Regions from separate parts of the Homo sapiens genome. Here region 2 is linked to region 1. Evidence: fine-mapped expression QTL. Tissue or cell type: whole blood. Region 1 holds a variant in brackets; the other region holds the start of a gene. All regions are shown on one strand. Distances are from middle to middle.

What was found. PIP is the estimated chance that this variant, and not a neighbour inherited with it, causes the effect.
Region 2: it holds the start of LRRC58, and the variant in region 1 is fine-mapped to the expression of LRRC58 in whole blood (INTERVAL, PIP 0.98).

Annotation. Positions count from the first base shown.
Region 1 is chr3:120,421,265-120,429,370 of GRCh38, forward strand. All of the region lies in intron 2 of FSTL1 (follistatin like 1), which reads right to left. LOC124900546 (a long non-coding RNA gene) reads right to left here. Exons shown (of 2, transcript XR_007096030.1): 2 at 1-2,812. It also overlaps the pseudogene BTNL12P. Among named protein-coding and RNA genes, the nearest start is that of FSTL1, 26 kb to the right of the region's middle. The variant A/G (reference allele first, on the strand shown) is at 3,278.
Region 2 is chr3:120,345,882-120,353,987 of GRCh38, forward strand. LRRC58 (leucine rich repeat containing 58) reads right to left here and starts at 3,473. Exons shown (of 4, transcript NM_001099678.2): 1 at 2,863-3,473. The coding sequence starts at 3,362. It also overlaps the pseudogene BTNL12P. RefSeq lists an enhancer at 2,739-2,788 and a silencer at 3,139-3,468.

The DNA of each region.
Region 1 (8,106 bases):
AAAAAGAACAGCTCTACTTATGCCAAGGTGGAATTTTGGCTCTACTTGCCACTATTCTGCGACAGAGTGGCTTTGTTGACGTGAGAAAGGCTCTCTTTGCTTTGCCAGAATTAGTCATGGAAACTTCACAGGAACACCAGGGCCCCTCAGATATACACAGAATACCATGGAGCTGGGGACAAAGGAATTCACAGAACTGGGGAGAGCAGGGGGAGGTCTGCAGTGGGGCGTATGGGGTGAGATGCTGGTTGCTCCCAGGCAGCTCTTCTGGAACCCAGTAGCACAGGCCTGAGAAAAGCAGAGAGAAAGAGCAAAACCGCTTCAGGACCTTGAAACCTTGCTGGAGTATCTCATGACCTTGTTCAAGTCTCTCTTTTTTTCTGGAAAGAAATGTGTTGGTACATCCTGCATATGCTATGGACAGAGGAGGAGGGACTGGTGATTTCTAGCAGTGGTTCTGATGTGTGTGGCAGGGGGCACTGCATGTGTGCAGTCCCTGCTATAAGTTTCCCTTCCTTATATGTGCTCACAATCAGTCCCTCATCTCAAGGTTAATGCACTAGGGCCAAACCCTGGTTTTGTGGGGCCTCAAGCTTAAATGGTTTAGGGAGGGCTAAAAAAATATACAATTATAAATGCAAATTGGGTAAATGGCCTTGCAAGACCCTTGCAAATAAAAGGTCTGAAATCAAAGCTTAATTAGCTTCATGGTAATCCAACTCCCCATTTGCCCTATTATTTTCTTCATAAACAAAATCTTTCCAATAATGGCTTTTGGGTCCTTAGTCTATTAGAGAGAGTCCTATTCAATATCTGATGCACATATGGCTTATCTCAAGTAGACTCTAAGAGCCTTGCACACTTCAGCTTCCCCCAGACCCACCACAGTGTACTGCCTGAGAAAATGCTCAACAAATGGTTTGTATATTAAATGTCATTTGGGGGTACAAAGTTTCGGTTATGCAAGATGAGTAATTTTTGGAGATCTAATGTACAGCATGGCGATGATAGTTAATAATACTGTTTGTATACTTTTAATTTGCTAAGAGGATAGATCATAAATTAAATTTTCTCAACATGCACACACACAAAATGGTAACTATGTAGAGGTAGTGAATATGTTAATTAGCTTGATTATGGTGAACATTTCACCATATATATGAATATTAAAACATTAAAACATTTGTACACCTTAAATATATGCAATTTTTATATGTCAGTGATATCTCAATAAAGCTGCTTAAAAATAAACAAAAATTATTTTAAAATGTCATTTACAGTCTCTTCAGGTTAGTGCAGCAGCCAACAGTGGCACTTCGGATGTTTTTGGGTCAGTATGGCCAGGCTCCATGACATCCAGATAAGAGATATATCGCCTGACGAAGATTAGCTTTAAGATTTAAAAAAATCTATTATGAAGCTGTCAATCAATAATTTTTTTTTTTTTTGAGATGGAGTCTCGCTCTGGTGCCAAGGCTGGAGTGCAGTGGCACAATCTCAGCTCACTGTAACTTCCACCTCCCGGGTTCAAGCGATTCTCCTGCCTCAGCCTTCCCAGTAGCTGAGATTACAGGCACACGCCCCCATGCCTGGCCAATTTTTGTATTTTTAGTAGAGATGGGGTTTCACCATGTTGGCCAGGCTGGTCTCGAATTCCTGATTGCAAGTGATCCACCTGCCTCGGCCTTCCGAAGTGCTGGGATTACAAGCCTAAGCCACTGTGCCCGGTCAATCAAGAATTATTTAATTACCCTTTGATTAATTTCTATGTTTAGCCTCTATCACAGCTTATGGGATATAACATGTTCCTTTTACTACTCATTGCGTATTGTGTGCCTGGAAATTACTATATTCAAATTTCAAATGGGACAGTGATGTTTACCTCCACCATTTTCTTTATTATTTTACAGATTCTGTCACATTCTCTATGTGTCTTTTCAGACTGAAGAATCTAGGTTGGCTCAGGCCACCTTCACACGGAAGCCTCTCTCCTTCACTGCTGCTCACATGTCATCTCTGGAATGCCTCATGCTGCCTATGCTTAGAGCTTTCTTGAGGTGGCCCAGACACAGCATAGCACACTAGATGCTTGGTTTCTATAGAATGATCGGTTCCTGTGTTCTGCAATGGTCTTGTCTAGTCATAGCAGAAGTATAGCAGTATAGTAAGCACTTACAGAGTTAGAAACATGTTAGGCCTGTTCATATAGGGCTGAAAATCATCTCACAAAGATCTGTGAGGCTCAGGGATTCATCCCTGTTTGCACTGAGGAGACTGTGACTTCAAGAGCTGGGCCATGACTGAGGTAAGAGTCAGACCCAGGTGGCTCCAACTCCGGTACTTGAGAGAGGTGCTTCTGTTCTCATGGTCCACAGTGACGAGTTGGAGAGTCTCCCCTGTGACATACCACACCGCCTTCTCAACACAGGAACACCCAGTGACTCCACTGCTACTGACAGGGTCTTTCGGGCTCCCCATTATGAAAGCAACACTCCTCAGAGTGATTCTTAGGAGTTCCCAAGATATCTTGTCACTCTTCCTAAAAAATGTTTTTGTAAGGCTGCCACTAGTTTCATAATTTCACCCTTCGGTTTCTTAGGAAAGTCCAAGTGGAAGTTTCTAATACAGACCATTTATCTGCCCTGAATTAGCTTGTTAGGTTTGAATATGGTTCTTATTTTCTCCTCTCCAATTGTCTACCTAAGACTTGTCCACTTTGAAGGCCAATGTAGAGAGTATAAATCCTCCAGTCTTCTTCAGTAATGGCCAAGGAAAATGATTTAAACCCATCAAAATGCTATTTGATGAATGCCTGTAACAGCAAAACAAAAAAAGAGAACGGTCTGTAATGAGCATGGCGCAAGCTCCGTGGCATAAACCCAAAAGGGAGGCCTGGGTGCAGTGGCTCAAGCCTGTCATTCCAGCACTTTGGGAGGCTGAGGTGGGAAGATTGCTTGAGCCCAGGAGTTTGAGGCTGCAGTGAGCTAGGATCATGCCACTGCACTCCAGCCTGGGTGACAGAGTGAGACCCTGTCTCTAAAAATAACAACAAAAAACCCAAAAAGGAGCAGAGGATGTGGCTGCCCCCACCACAGGAGTGTCTAACCTAGTTGAGCTGATGAAACAAGAATACAGGCCAATGCAGTCCTAAGTAATGGGGCCGACTCCAGGAGATGGGACTTCATAGAAGAGATGGGACTTGAGCCGAGCTCTTAAGAAAGGTAGGATGTGGATGGAAAATCTATAGGTTTTTGAGCAGGAGAGTGTTAAGAAAAAC[A/G]TTTGAACAGTGGCACATGGCAAGAAATGGGTAAGGCGGAATTGGGGGCAGGCAGAAGGATATCAGTTGGAACAGGCCTGGGGTGATGACAGTTGCATCTACACTAGTGGTGGCATGGTTATAGAAGGAAGGGATCCAAGAGAGATCTCTACAGAATAACGAGGTCTGGCAACATCCTGAATAGAGAGAGGAAGGAGAGAGTCTGGGGGGCTGCCAGATCTTTGGCTTCTAGGGCCTGGAGGGTTGGTTGTGTGTCTCTATCAGAAATGAAGTCTGGGAAAGGTGTCCCGTGAGGGTGGGGTGGGCAATGATGAGTCAGTTATGGACGCGTCTCAAGGACAGTGAAACATCCCACCGACAGCTGCCAATATTGGCTAAAGATGCATATCTGGGCGTCACCTGTGTAGGGGTGAGAAATTGAGGCAGAGGAACAAATGAGCTCAGGAGAAAAAGGTGGGCATGGAAGGCCGAGGGCGGCTAGGGCGTGGAAGGAAAAGGGGGAGCACAGACAGCAGGAAGAGCAGCCCACAAGGGGTCTCTGTGCAAATCAGAAAAGGCACCTTTCTCTCCAGGAGATGCAGCACATGGCCAGGGTATGGGGCTTGGCTAGCAGAGTGTAGTTTGGATTTCAGCCCCTGTCACCTCCTCATGCAGTCAACAGCCTGCACAATGGTATGAGAACTCTGACAGCAAAGCAGCCGAGAGTAGAGTAGGAACATTCAGAGAATTGGGAGGAAAACCAGGAAGCCTAGAGAGCTCCCAGAAATGGATGATGAATGCCATGTAAGAGAAATCATTTGGCAAATGTCGGGATAAAACAGCCAAAAAAAAAAAAAAGCTTTTAAACTTCTGCTGAAACCTGAACTAGTAACCTGGAGTGTAAGCCAGGCAGAGGCAGTGATGTCCTGTGTAAGAAGAATTAATGCAGGAGGACTGAAATGGGCCCTGGATATATCTCTGCCTCTAACATATGGTGTGACATGGGGCAAGGTGCTTGACCTCTCTGGGCCTCAGTTTCCTCAGCTATAAAATGCAGAGGTTATAGATGATGCCTAAGTCCCTTAAGCTGTAAGAATTCTATTAATTAGAAAGCTCAGGAATTTACCACTTCAGATGTTCCTGAATATCAAACTTCACTCTCCCAAGGAAGCTAACCTAAATGGCCAAACTAAAGAAAGTGGTTATGTATACAGTCACATGAGGGTGTTGCTAGGTTCTGAAGGGGGGATTAAAGTTGGCTCTCATAGTCAAAGGATTCTCATAAGCAATGCCTTTTCATTCCCTCCCAGATCATGGCAGAGGGAATCAGGGAAGCAGTAATGGAACCCCAATTGAGTGTCCTGATTTTGTTTCTAGTGAACTGGGTGGAACCCTCTACTCCCCTAGAATACTATTAATAAATTTTTTATTCTACTTGCATTTGCCTTGCAAGGAGAAAAGGGAAGAAAAGAAAGGAGAGAAAGGCTAAAGGAAATTCACATGCGATTCACAATTCTTCATTCCTGCCAAGAACCTGTCACTGAAGTATGTCTGGGGCTGCCAGGGCTCACATTTACTCAGCATTCATGCTCTAATTATTTCCACATGTAGTTCAAGGAAAATGGTTGATCAAAAGTTTAAAAAAAAAATTCCCACACACCTAAATCCCAGTACCTTCAAATCAAAGAAGGGAGAAAGCTCTAGGGCAGCTGTGGGAAAATTCTCAAGACAGGCAGTTTTAGAAGCATCCCCTGCAGTGCCTGCCACATCTGGGCCAACATCCCTACACATTCCCATCCCTCCATCCCATGCAAGCCCACCCTCCACCCACCCCCAGCTTCCCAAGCCCTGAACCCATTAGGATTTGCATTCTTTGGAGTTCCAAGTGGAATGTAGGATTTATTCCCCTGATATGGTGGAAGGCAGATGAGATGGATATCGCCTAAGAGGTATCTAGTTCTCCACTCCACCCATTTTTGCCTTGGGTGCCACTGAATTTAAGTAGTCCCTGGGTGGTTCCTGATACCACAGACCTGCTGGGAATAGAATCCACTGTGGCAGAGAGCTTGCTTGCTTCCCTGAGCTGGAACAGTACCCCCATCACTTCTGTGGCTGCTTTCCATTACCCCAATTTGCACATGATTCCCCCTAAACCTGCAAGCCAAGCCACTATTCTCGACGGTGGTCCACATGCCCTGGCACTGAGTTGGATGCCCGACACTGTCACCTACTGCCTTCTACCTGGGCACTGTTAACAAAGTCTTTGGCATATGGCACAGGGCGTTTTTCCTCTCTCCTGGGTGACTTCATTGTTCATGTAGCCTCGAGATCTGTGGGCTCCTCACTTCGAGCAACCCTCCACTTCTTAGGGACCCTGGATACTGAAAGCTTTGGGAAGTGTCTGTAAGCAGAGCAGGTAGCCACAGCAGATTTAAGCTGTAAGTGGACTAAAATTTAAAAAAAGGGTCTAGGGCTCCCAAGGCTCTATGTTTTGAAATGAGAACTCATTAGCCTTTGAAAATGTCAGCATGATGAGGAATTGTCAGATGCTTCTTTAACCTTCAGATAGGCAGAGAATGTCCCACAAGACCACCTAAAAAAATAATGTCACCATCTGGGAAGTCTGATTTGTTGTCTGGCTTGCCCAAATTCTCCCTGTCCTTCAAGGCTTGGGTCAAGTTACACCACTCCATCCTCAGTGACCTTTTACTTTCTACTGGTATGAATTCCCCCTTCCTTCTCTGAACTTTGATTCCTCTTTGTATGAACTCATTTTGATCATTTATTTTTTTAAAAACAGAACTGACTGTGTGGATTTTGTCTTTCTGGCTGAACTACAAGCTCCTAGAGGACAAAGATTCTGTTTGTCCATCCTTTTGTAGGACCTAGTATACCTTGTGCCACTCCATTAACCTTTGTTGAAAGCAAAAAAAGGTGGATTGAACCACACTGCCCTGGGGACTTGGGATAGGGACAGAGAGGAACAACACCTGTGCCAACTCCTTTCCTGGGGCTGCTCCCTCCCAGAACTGGTCTTCTTTGAGGAAATACCCTAAAGACCCTGCCCTCCACCACCAGGCCATATATATTCAGCCTGGAATTTCACTAATTAGAGATTGTCTTAGGCCCACAGAAAGACATTGAAGAGTGTGTTTGTGCATGTGTGTGCATGCATATGTGTGTTAATGAGGTAGAAGAGCAACGGAGGACGAAAATGGCTTTCAGTCATTTCCTTTGTCCACAGTTTAAATATTTAACCTAACTGAGACATGCTGAGAGAATGAGAATTTGGTGAAGAGGAAGATAAGGTAATGTGGGAATGTGGGGTATCTCAGAGCAAAGCAAAATTGGGTGAGATTTCTGAGTATAGGGTAGGGGCAGCCAAAGAGCTGCCTGATACCTTGGGGGCCTATACTAGGGGGAAGTAGAGATGAAGAGAAGCAAGTGAGAAGGCAGGAGAAACTGTGGAAATGGGCTTATTATCTGAGGCCAGTGCTTTGCGTGAACTCTTCTGAGGAACCCCGCCCTTACACTGTCTTCTGAGGTAGAGGGAGACAGGCTGGCCAACATTTCTAGACCAGGAAAAAAGCTTCTTGCCTTGCTCTACCCCTCCTCCACTCCCAAAATATTCTGGGGATCTCTAACTACTCCCCTCTGTCTCATCCACTAGGCTGACCTTGCAGTGGGCTGGAATACACTGAAACACGAGTTGCCGGGACAGCAAAGCCTTAGGTGTGCCCACGTGGTTTATCTCCCCTTGGATTGGGCACATTAGTAAGAACTGTGATGCCCAACCAAGAGGTGAGACCATCTGATACAATGGTGGAGGCTGGGGGGATAGTAGGGATGTCAGGGTTGACTGAAACAAAATGGATCTGGGAGACCCAGCATAGCAAAGTAGCACCAGTCTCCACTTTAAAAACAAGGACAGGCCGGGCACAGTGGCTCATACCTGTAATCCCAGCCCTCTGGGAGGCCTAGGCAGGTGGATCACTTGAGGACAGAAGTTTGAGACCAGCCTGGCCAACATGGTGAAACCCCCCTCTCCATTAAAAATACAAAAATTAGCTGGGTGTGGTGACTTGCACCTGTAAATCCAGCTACTCTGGAGGCTGAGGCACGAGAATCGCTTGAACCTGGAAGGCAGAGGTTGCAATGAGCCTAGATTGCACCACTGTCCTCCAGCCTGGGTAACGGAGTGAGACTCTGTCTCAGACAAAAAACAAACAGCAACAACAACAACAACAACAACAAAAAACAGGGACAAAGTCCTGGGAATCTCTGGGGGTAGTGTGGCTGCAAAGCAGTTAAGGTTCCAGCATCCTGGCAATTATTCTCTAGCCTAAGGATGCAGACAGGGTTAAAACCCAGCAAGAAACTCAAAGCTAAATGAAGTCTCCATATGTGTGGCTCAGTAGGGTTCTAGGAGAAGCAGACAGATGTAATTAGAAGTTCTCAGACATTGTGTTGCCACAGCAACTGCTGGCCAGGAAGAAAGTGGGGAAAACCTGGAGTCCGAGGAATACAGTCTTCCAAGGAAATGCCAGTGGTGTTCATCATGCTTGGGCTTCATGGCTGGCTCCTCCAGCTTGCCCACGCCCAGGCTCTAGAAGGCCCTCTCCCTCAAATTCCTCCTAATCCCCATTCCCACCCCTGGAGCAATTTCAAATGCACATCAAGGGCTCCCTTCAGAGGGCATCCAAAGGAAGGAATGAGGAACTCTCAGAGGAGAGTTTGTGCTGAAGAGTAATCTCTGGTCTCTGGGGCTTTCTGGAGCTGAGTGAGGATCAGTGAGGGAGGCTGCAAGTTTAATTTATGCATCACTCTGGAGCACCCATGAGTGTGGCCTT
Region 2 (8,106 bases), 75 kb before region 1:
AAAACTGAGTCAGAAGATCAGTCAACTATGTGAATGACTTTGACAAATCCTCCTGATCACAAATCCAACAGTACAGAAGTCAAGTTCTAGGCTGGGTGCAGTGCCTCACGCCTGTAATCCCAACACTTTGGGAGGCAGAGGTGGGTGGATCACTTGAGGTCAGAAGTTTGAGACCAGCCTGGCCTGGCCAACATGGTGAAACTTTGTCTCTACTAAAAGTACAAAAATTAGCTGGCGTGATGGCACGCTCCTGTGGTCGCAGATACTTGGGAGGCTGAGGCAAGAGCATCACTTGAACCCAGGAGGCGGAGATTGCAGTGAGCCCAGATCATGCCACTGCACTCCAGCCTGGGCAACAGAGTGAAACTCCATCTCAAAAAAACAGAAAACAAAAAACAAAAAACAAAAACAAGCAAAAAACCATGACCCTCCAACCCCCCAACAAAGATTCAGGTTCTAGTACTCTGCCACTGTGCAGAACTCAAGGGTTTGGAGTCACAGACCACAGAGGTCAAATACAGTTCCAATGCTTACTAGCCTTGTAATCTTATGACTTAATTTCTCTGAGCTTCAGTTTCTGCCTCTGAAAAATGGGAGCACATCATCTTATGGCATCATTGTGAGTATTAAAAAGCATAGTTAGCACCTATGACAGGATCTACTGCATTGTAAGTATTAAATAAATGGGATTTTTGCCTACTTTTCTCCCCATGTGATGGAAATAATACTTTCCCTGGGTTCCTGTTAGTATATTAAGAAAATTCCAAGGCTGGAATTATGCAACATTAAAATTAGAAGGAACCAAGGGCTGTCAATTTTACCTCTAAATCTTTTCTCGAAATCTTCCATTTCTTAGCATTTCTCCTAGTATCAAGCTGGTATAGGCTACCATCATCTCTCATCCTATTACAATGACCTCCTTCAAACCAGCCCTCAAAATCTCTATCTCTTCACCCTCTCCTCACTCCATTCTTGCATAGCAACAAGACACATGCTTAAAACTCTCTCATGTGCACTTAGAATAAAATCCAAACTTTATCATAGCCTTCAAGACCTGACACGGGCTGACTTGCCCAAATTTATATTTGCCACTTTCCCTCTTGCTCACTTCCCAGTACAATGTCCTTCTTTCAGAATTTTAGTAGTTACCCTCCTTGCCTCTGGGCTTTCCCATGTGCCTCTGTCATTTTGTCTCAAGGCATTCTGTAGGTCTTCATAGAACTCATAACCACTGTAATTAAATAATGAGGTTCATAGTTAGTTGTTTAATGTCTGTCTCCTGGATCATGTTCACCATTGTATCCCCAATACTTGGGACAGTGCCTGACACAGGGCAGGTATTCAATAAATATCTATTGAAGAGTAAATGAAGAGACATCTTGCCCAAATGCTTCATTTGTAGATTAGAAAGCTACAGTTAGGATACGCTACAGTTAGGATACAAGTGACTTGCCTAAGGCTGGAGCACCAAGAGTTCTTTTTTCCCAGGCCAATATTCTTTTTTTTTTTTTTTTTTTTTTTGAGACAGAGTCTCGCTCTGTCGCCCAGGCCGGACTGCGGACTGCAGTGGCGCAATCTCGGCTCACTGCAAGCTCCGCTTCCCGGGTTCACGCCATTCTCCTGCCTCAGCCTCCCGAGTAGCTGGGACTACAGGCGCCCGCCACCGCGCCCGGCTAATTTTTTGTATTTTTAGTAGAGACGGGGTTTCACCTTGTTAGCCAGGATGGTCTCGATCTCCTGACCTCATGATCCACCTGCCTTGGCCTCCCAAAGTGCTGGGATTACAGGCGTGAGCCACCGCGCCCGGCCTTCCCAGGCCAATATTCTTTTGCTCCACTTAACTCTGAGGTCCCTTCTACCTTTAACGTTCTGTTATCTCTGAAAATACAATAAAGTGTGAAAATATCTTACAGATGGAAGATACCTCTTTTTCGTTTTGTACAATACATTTGGCTCTATTTCCCACTCCCCCACCGGGCACTTTTATTATCCTGTTTCTCTGCTTCCTCCTAAAGTTAAATTTAACATATTTACTGCATAATCTAGTAGGTGAAGCAGATAATTCCTGTAAACAAGGAATCATATCCAATAAGGTAAATGCAAAGGCAAGATGAATGAAGCACAGAGAAAGTACAGCATAGGCTGTACTTTTTTGTGCAGGGAGTAGTAACGAAAAAAATTGTTGTGCAGGGAGTAGTAAAAAAGGAATCACAGAGATGATTAACTTGAGATAGCTTTTGAAGGATGATAGGCGTTTGCCAGGTGAAGGAAACATTCCAAGCAAGGGAAACAGCACGTGTACAGAGGCACTGCATCCATTCAACACATACTGAGTGCCTACCAGCAACTCCAAGCTGCTTTCTCTACGTGGGAAAATGCATAGGTCACTGAACTCCACAAATGGTAGTTGGTACTGCCACAGAGAAGAGGAAGCTGCAAATGTAGTGGAAAGCAAGGGTTAGATCAGAGCACCTTGTACGCCACGCTCAAAGGCACGTACTTTGATCTATAGAGATGGAAATCCACGGAAGACTTTTGAGCAAAGAAGTGACAACCTCTGATTTACATCTGTTTTGAGTTTCCACTCAGTTTGGATCACGCCCCAGATTCAATAAGGAAGACAGAAAAAATGCCTCGAGAATCTGCATAGGCCAAACACAACACACCAAACAGTCACACATGCGAACATACTAGGTATTTACAACAACTTGCTGAGATGGTTGGGCAGAACTCACTACCGCACAGTTAAAGAGAAAGCTTGGAAATAGTTACGTGACAAACGTTGAGGTGCCCAGGCCCGGCGCCCCAGGGTTCCCGGACACCGCCCGAGGCCTCCCCACCCTCCGGCACACACCCGCTCACCTCTGCAAGTTCTCGATCTCAGCCGGGATGCTCTGCAGTTGGTTGCCGCCCAGGCTCAGGGTCTGCAGCGCGCGCAGCTCTAAGAGCGAGGCAGGCACCTCCTGGAAACAGTTGCCGCTGAGGTTGAGCACCTGGAGGCTGCGGCAGAGCGGCGACTGGGCCAGGCCCTTGGGCAGCGCACTGGGCCCGCCGAGCCGGTTGTTCTTGGCCAGCAGCGTGCGCAGGCCGCGCAGAGCGAGCAGCTCCGGCCCGAGCGCGGTCAACGCGTTGCCGCTCACGTCCAGCAGCTGGAGGTGCGGGAAGCCGCTGCCCAGCGCCCGTGGCAGCGACACCAGACGGTTGTGAGGCAGCAGCAGCCGCAGCAGCGCCTCCCGCGCCCCGCGCCGCTCCTCCCCCCGCGCCTCCAGCTCAGACTCCAGCGTCTCGGTGGACACGCTGAGGCGGGACCAGTTCAGTTCGGCCTCCCCGGCCGTGACCACCGCTGCTCCGGCCTCCTCCATCCTGGCCACCGCACGGCGCGTGGCGCCGGATTCCCCAGAGCGCCGCGCGCGGTCCAGAGGCCGGGAGCTCTGCGGCGCCCCGGAACCTGAACCGAGGGCTGAGTCGGAAGTGGCGCGGGCGGGCGCAAACCCTGCGCGCCTTGGCCGAGTCACGCGACGCGAGTCCTGGGGTGCGCGCGCCGCTCCGGGGCGGGCTCTGCCTCACGAGGCGCGGGGCGCGGAGTGGCAAGAGCGCAGCATGGGCTGCGCAGAACTGAGGCAGACACCCAGAGGCTGCCAAATTGTCATCTGAGCCGGACCGGGTTTCGGCGGCCGCGCTTTATAGTCGCTGGAGCCTGGTGACCTATTCCAGGGCTACAAGACTGCCTCGGCAAACAGCCCAAGGATGTTCGGTTATCTCGCCTTGAGGGTTCGCGCGTCACGTGCCCCCCCCGTCCCCCGCTTGTTTTTCAGTTTAAAAGTGGGGCCCGTGTCTGCAGGACTCTGTGAGCACACAGTAATTTAGTGGTGATTTAGCTCCATGACAGAAAACCGCAGGAATTTAAAGTCCGAGGATTAACAAAGCCGACCTCGAAATGTGAACGCAGCTGGACTAGACCTCAGAACCCCCGGACCCTTACTGGAGGTTCCGCTGTTAAATAGCCTAGGGCAGGGATTTGATTTCAGTTGCCCCATGCATAAAATATGGGTAACACCCGCACTACTTGCCCCACAGAATTATTTTTTTCTTTTTTAAGGCAGAAATGTGTATCAAGTAAGGACGTTTTGCCCGTTTTAATTGTAGAAGCACATACGTGGCTTTTGGTGTAAGTTGTGTCTAGGAGTGAATTTGGGAGATATGGAGGCGGTTGCATGATTTGAGATAGCTCAAATTAATGAGTTAGTTTAAAAACTCAAAGCATAGAGTTTGTACTGCAGGTCAAAACTACAGTTTGGGAAAATCCTGATCTGGTACTAATTTAGTAATTCTAATTAACGTATTTTTCATCCTTGTCCCAAACTCAATCTTTTCTGAAATTACATTTTATGATTTTGAAAAGTAATGAATAGAAATGAGAAAAAATGCTTAGCTTTTTTTTTTTTTAACAAAGCTTATACATAAGAAAGTTAAGTGGTCGTGTATAATCAACGACATTAAATTGCTTTCCTCCTTAAAAAAGGAAAGTCGTTTTTTTCTTGCCAGTCATTTATTTGTATGAGAAACTATGCCTTTACTCTGCAGTCAAACTTTAATTTCTGATTGAGTGGTAGTCCTAGAAGGACGTACTTTGTATGTTTAAGCTAATGGTGGAATGCTTTTTAAAACTGATGAGTCATCTGTTTTGAAAGAGTCCTTTTAAGAACAGACCTTATTTTGGGTCAAGCCAGCATTCTAACAGTAGTCCTAATATCTGAAAATAACAAATATTTAAAATAATAGTTGTTTTTGCTTTAAAATATTTATCTTGGATTTTAAAAAGTGATAGGAACGTAATGTAAAATGAGAAAAAGAAAGGATTCAAACATAATTCAGAAATAAGAGTTGGCCAGGTGCCATGGCTCATGCCTGTAATCCCAGTGCTTTGGCCCAGGCCAGCAGATCGCTGAGGTCAGGAGTTCCAGACCAGCCTGGCCAACATGGGGAAACCCCGTCTCTACAAAAAATACAAAAATTAGCCGGGCCTAGTGGCGCTCGCCTGTGGTGCCAACTACTACACAGGCTGCTGGGAGGATTGTTTCAGCCTAAGAGGTAGAGGTTGCAGAGAGCCATGATTGTGCCACTGCCCTGCACTTTTTTTTTTTTTTGTCTCAAGAAAAATAAAATAAGAGGTAAGATTACAAATCAGTGGAATTAAAGGGAAAAAGATAACCTCAATAATAGCAAATGAGGCTTCCTAGTAGAAAGTTTGGAAAAAAATACTTAGTATGGGAACTCCACATTATATAGAATAAAGGAAAGGAAGTAGAAAAAAAGTGGTGTAGGTAAAGAAATGAGTAACCTGACAAATTTTGAAAACCTACTGCTTGCAACGCTGTACTAGGAGCTTTTAATTTAATAAAGTCTCCAACTATTTGGTTGTTGAATTTAGGATAAATGTAACCAGACCATTGAGCAGCTAAGATAACTGAGAAACTGCTTTCTAAAAGTTGAAAACTGTGTTTCTGCCTCATTGAAGCTATTGGCAAGGAAACTGTAAATTTCAGTGTAAAATGCACATCTCATGTCCAATTAGAGTAGGTTCCTACTTACATAGAATGACTATCTTTATTCATTTTTGGATTCTCCCTCACACCACCACCATCCCCCATTGCCTAGTATGATTTCTTGCAAATAATTTGGATTGACTGAGTTGGATATATCTCTTAGTTAGTGGACTTATTTTTTGAATAATTAGAGTAAATTGTAAAGTCCTTGAAAAGAACTGTCTTATTATTATATACCCATCCCCTAACAGTGCCTGCTCCACAGTAGGTACAGGTACTCTATATCTTTTGAAACACTGAATATATTTGTAAATATTAAGTTTTAGTTGAAAAGGAATTTTTATTTATCAAACACCTTTTATCACAAACCTTAAAAAATGTAATTCTACTTATCGCCACATTTATAAATAAGAATGTTTATCCGCATTTTAGAAATGAGGGAACTCAAGCTCAAAAATGATGAGTAAAGTCTGCTATCACAGAGAGTGAAAGGCTAATTAGAAATTCAGCCTTAGGGCTGTGTGGCTCCAAAGTCTATGTTCTTTCCACTACACTACACTGCTCTCTTGAGCTTAGTTTTTTTTGTTTTTTGTTTTAAATGATTCAAAGCAATAAGATCTTCCAAATAGTGTCAGTATTACAAGTGGCATCTATCCATTGATGGTACTTTGAAATATTGTGATTGTTGGAATTATACGGCACTTGTCTTAAGGATTGGGGGTTTTGTGGGCTTCATACACAAAACTGGAGCAGAGGCACCTGAACCAAACATAATTTGGGGTGCTGTCCTTGTATCATATGACGTCACTTTAGAACCTATGTTGATCGGAGCCATAGTGGACATCTGACCAAGGTAAGCCCATCAACAGACTGCCTGGTGGCCTGTCACTTATAAGGCACTGCCCAAACAGAAGCAGAGATTATTTTTTTTTCTCACTCGCCCAGGAATTTAATCCAAAGAACCCAGAGGGAAATTCCAGTTGGTGGCAGATCAGAAAGAAATTACAGTTGAATCAGAAAGAAGCAGACATGGGGAATGTCGCTAATTTTTTGTCAATTGTGAAACATAAGTGTGAAGATTCATAAAATATTGCTGCTGAAATCTAGGACTGCCTCATATCCAGAGTAACGCACCAGGTGCAGCTTCACTGAGGCCAACTTGTTAACAGCTGGATTAAATGTGAGCATCTTCTTACTGCCCAGTATAATAACCCTTCTCTATCTTAGCTAACGTGGATGTATCTCTTTTCACTGCAGCCAGATGGGTTTAAATGAAGCAGCATCCCCCAATCTTACAGTGGCCCTTGAAACCCTCCAGTCAGCCTGGAGAATACTGAAAACTTTCTGGGAGGTAAAAGAGCTGTGGTGGCTTGTGAACCCCCACAGTGATGGGGTTCATCTGTGGCTAGCTGAAAGAGATGCCTGAGAGGGGAGTGGAGGCACTGGAGAAGGTAAAGGACAGAGGAGACAACAGAATATGTTACATAGGGAAAGGAACATGGGTTACAGGGAACTGGGAAAGTACATGGCCTGTTTGTCCACTTATCAGAACTTCACCATTATGTCAGGCTTGGCCAATTGAATACATTTCAAGATAAGTCTCTTGACTGGAATAGTATTGGACATTTAGGAGACCAAATGAATTCTCCTCCTCCTTCAGCTACCCTTTCTAGGCTTCCTGAAGGCAGGAACTGCATCTGTTTACCATGGTATCCCCCAAGACATCGTAGGCAGCAAATAGTGAGTGAACGCAATAAATGCATGAATAGTTTTTGACATACCTTACTTAAATAGGCCCTATTGACCTACTGACTGCAGAAAAAACAAGAAATAATCTAAGTAGAGAATCCTTTCATAAACCATTCTAGTTAGGAGGCAGCATACTGATGCAGTTAAAAGAGTGGGCTTTGGTTTTTATCAGATACAGGTTTCAAAACCCACCTCTGGAAATCAGATTTCTCTTACTTAATCTTGATTTTGTTACTTAATTTCTGTAAGGCTTGATTTCATCATCTGTATTATAAAATATATTATCTGTTCCATAGGGTCATTGTAAGGTGAAAATCTAAAGTGCTTAGCATAGTACCTAGCACAAAGTCAATACTCTGTAAGTAGTGGCAATTATTATTATTAGCTGTAATAGTAGTTAATGTTATAACTATTGCTCTCTGCCACTTGTTATATCATGATCAGGGTAGAAAAACAAAGTTGAGAACAGTCTTTACTCATGATTGCACAATTTCCTACATAAACCATGGTCCTCTGCTCTGGGCCATTCTGTGTCTTAGGGATTAGGATTTGGGAGGTTGGTCTGACCTCTCTTGCCCAAGATTTATGCTTATTGTCTTTTTTGTCTTCAAGGTATATCAGGACCTCATGCCTGCTAAACCCACTCCTACCTTTATTTTAGCCACCTCTGATTCAGACTGTCCTTTCTAAAGCACTGCTTTCATGATTTCAACCCATCTCTTTTCCTCCTGCCTTTACCCCATGTTTCCTCATTGCTTATCAGATGAAGGCCAGTTGCTTAGGCTAGCATGCAAGGTTTTGATTTATTTCC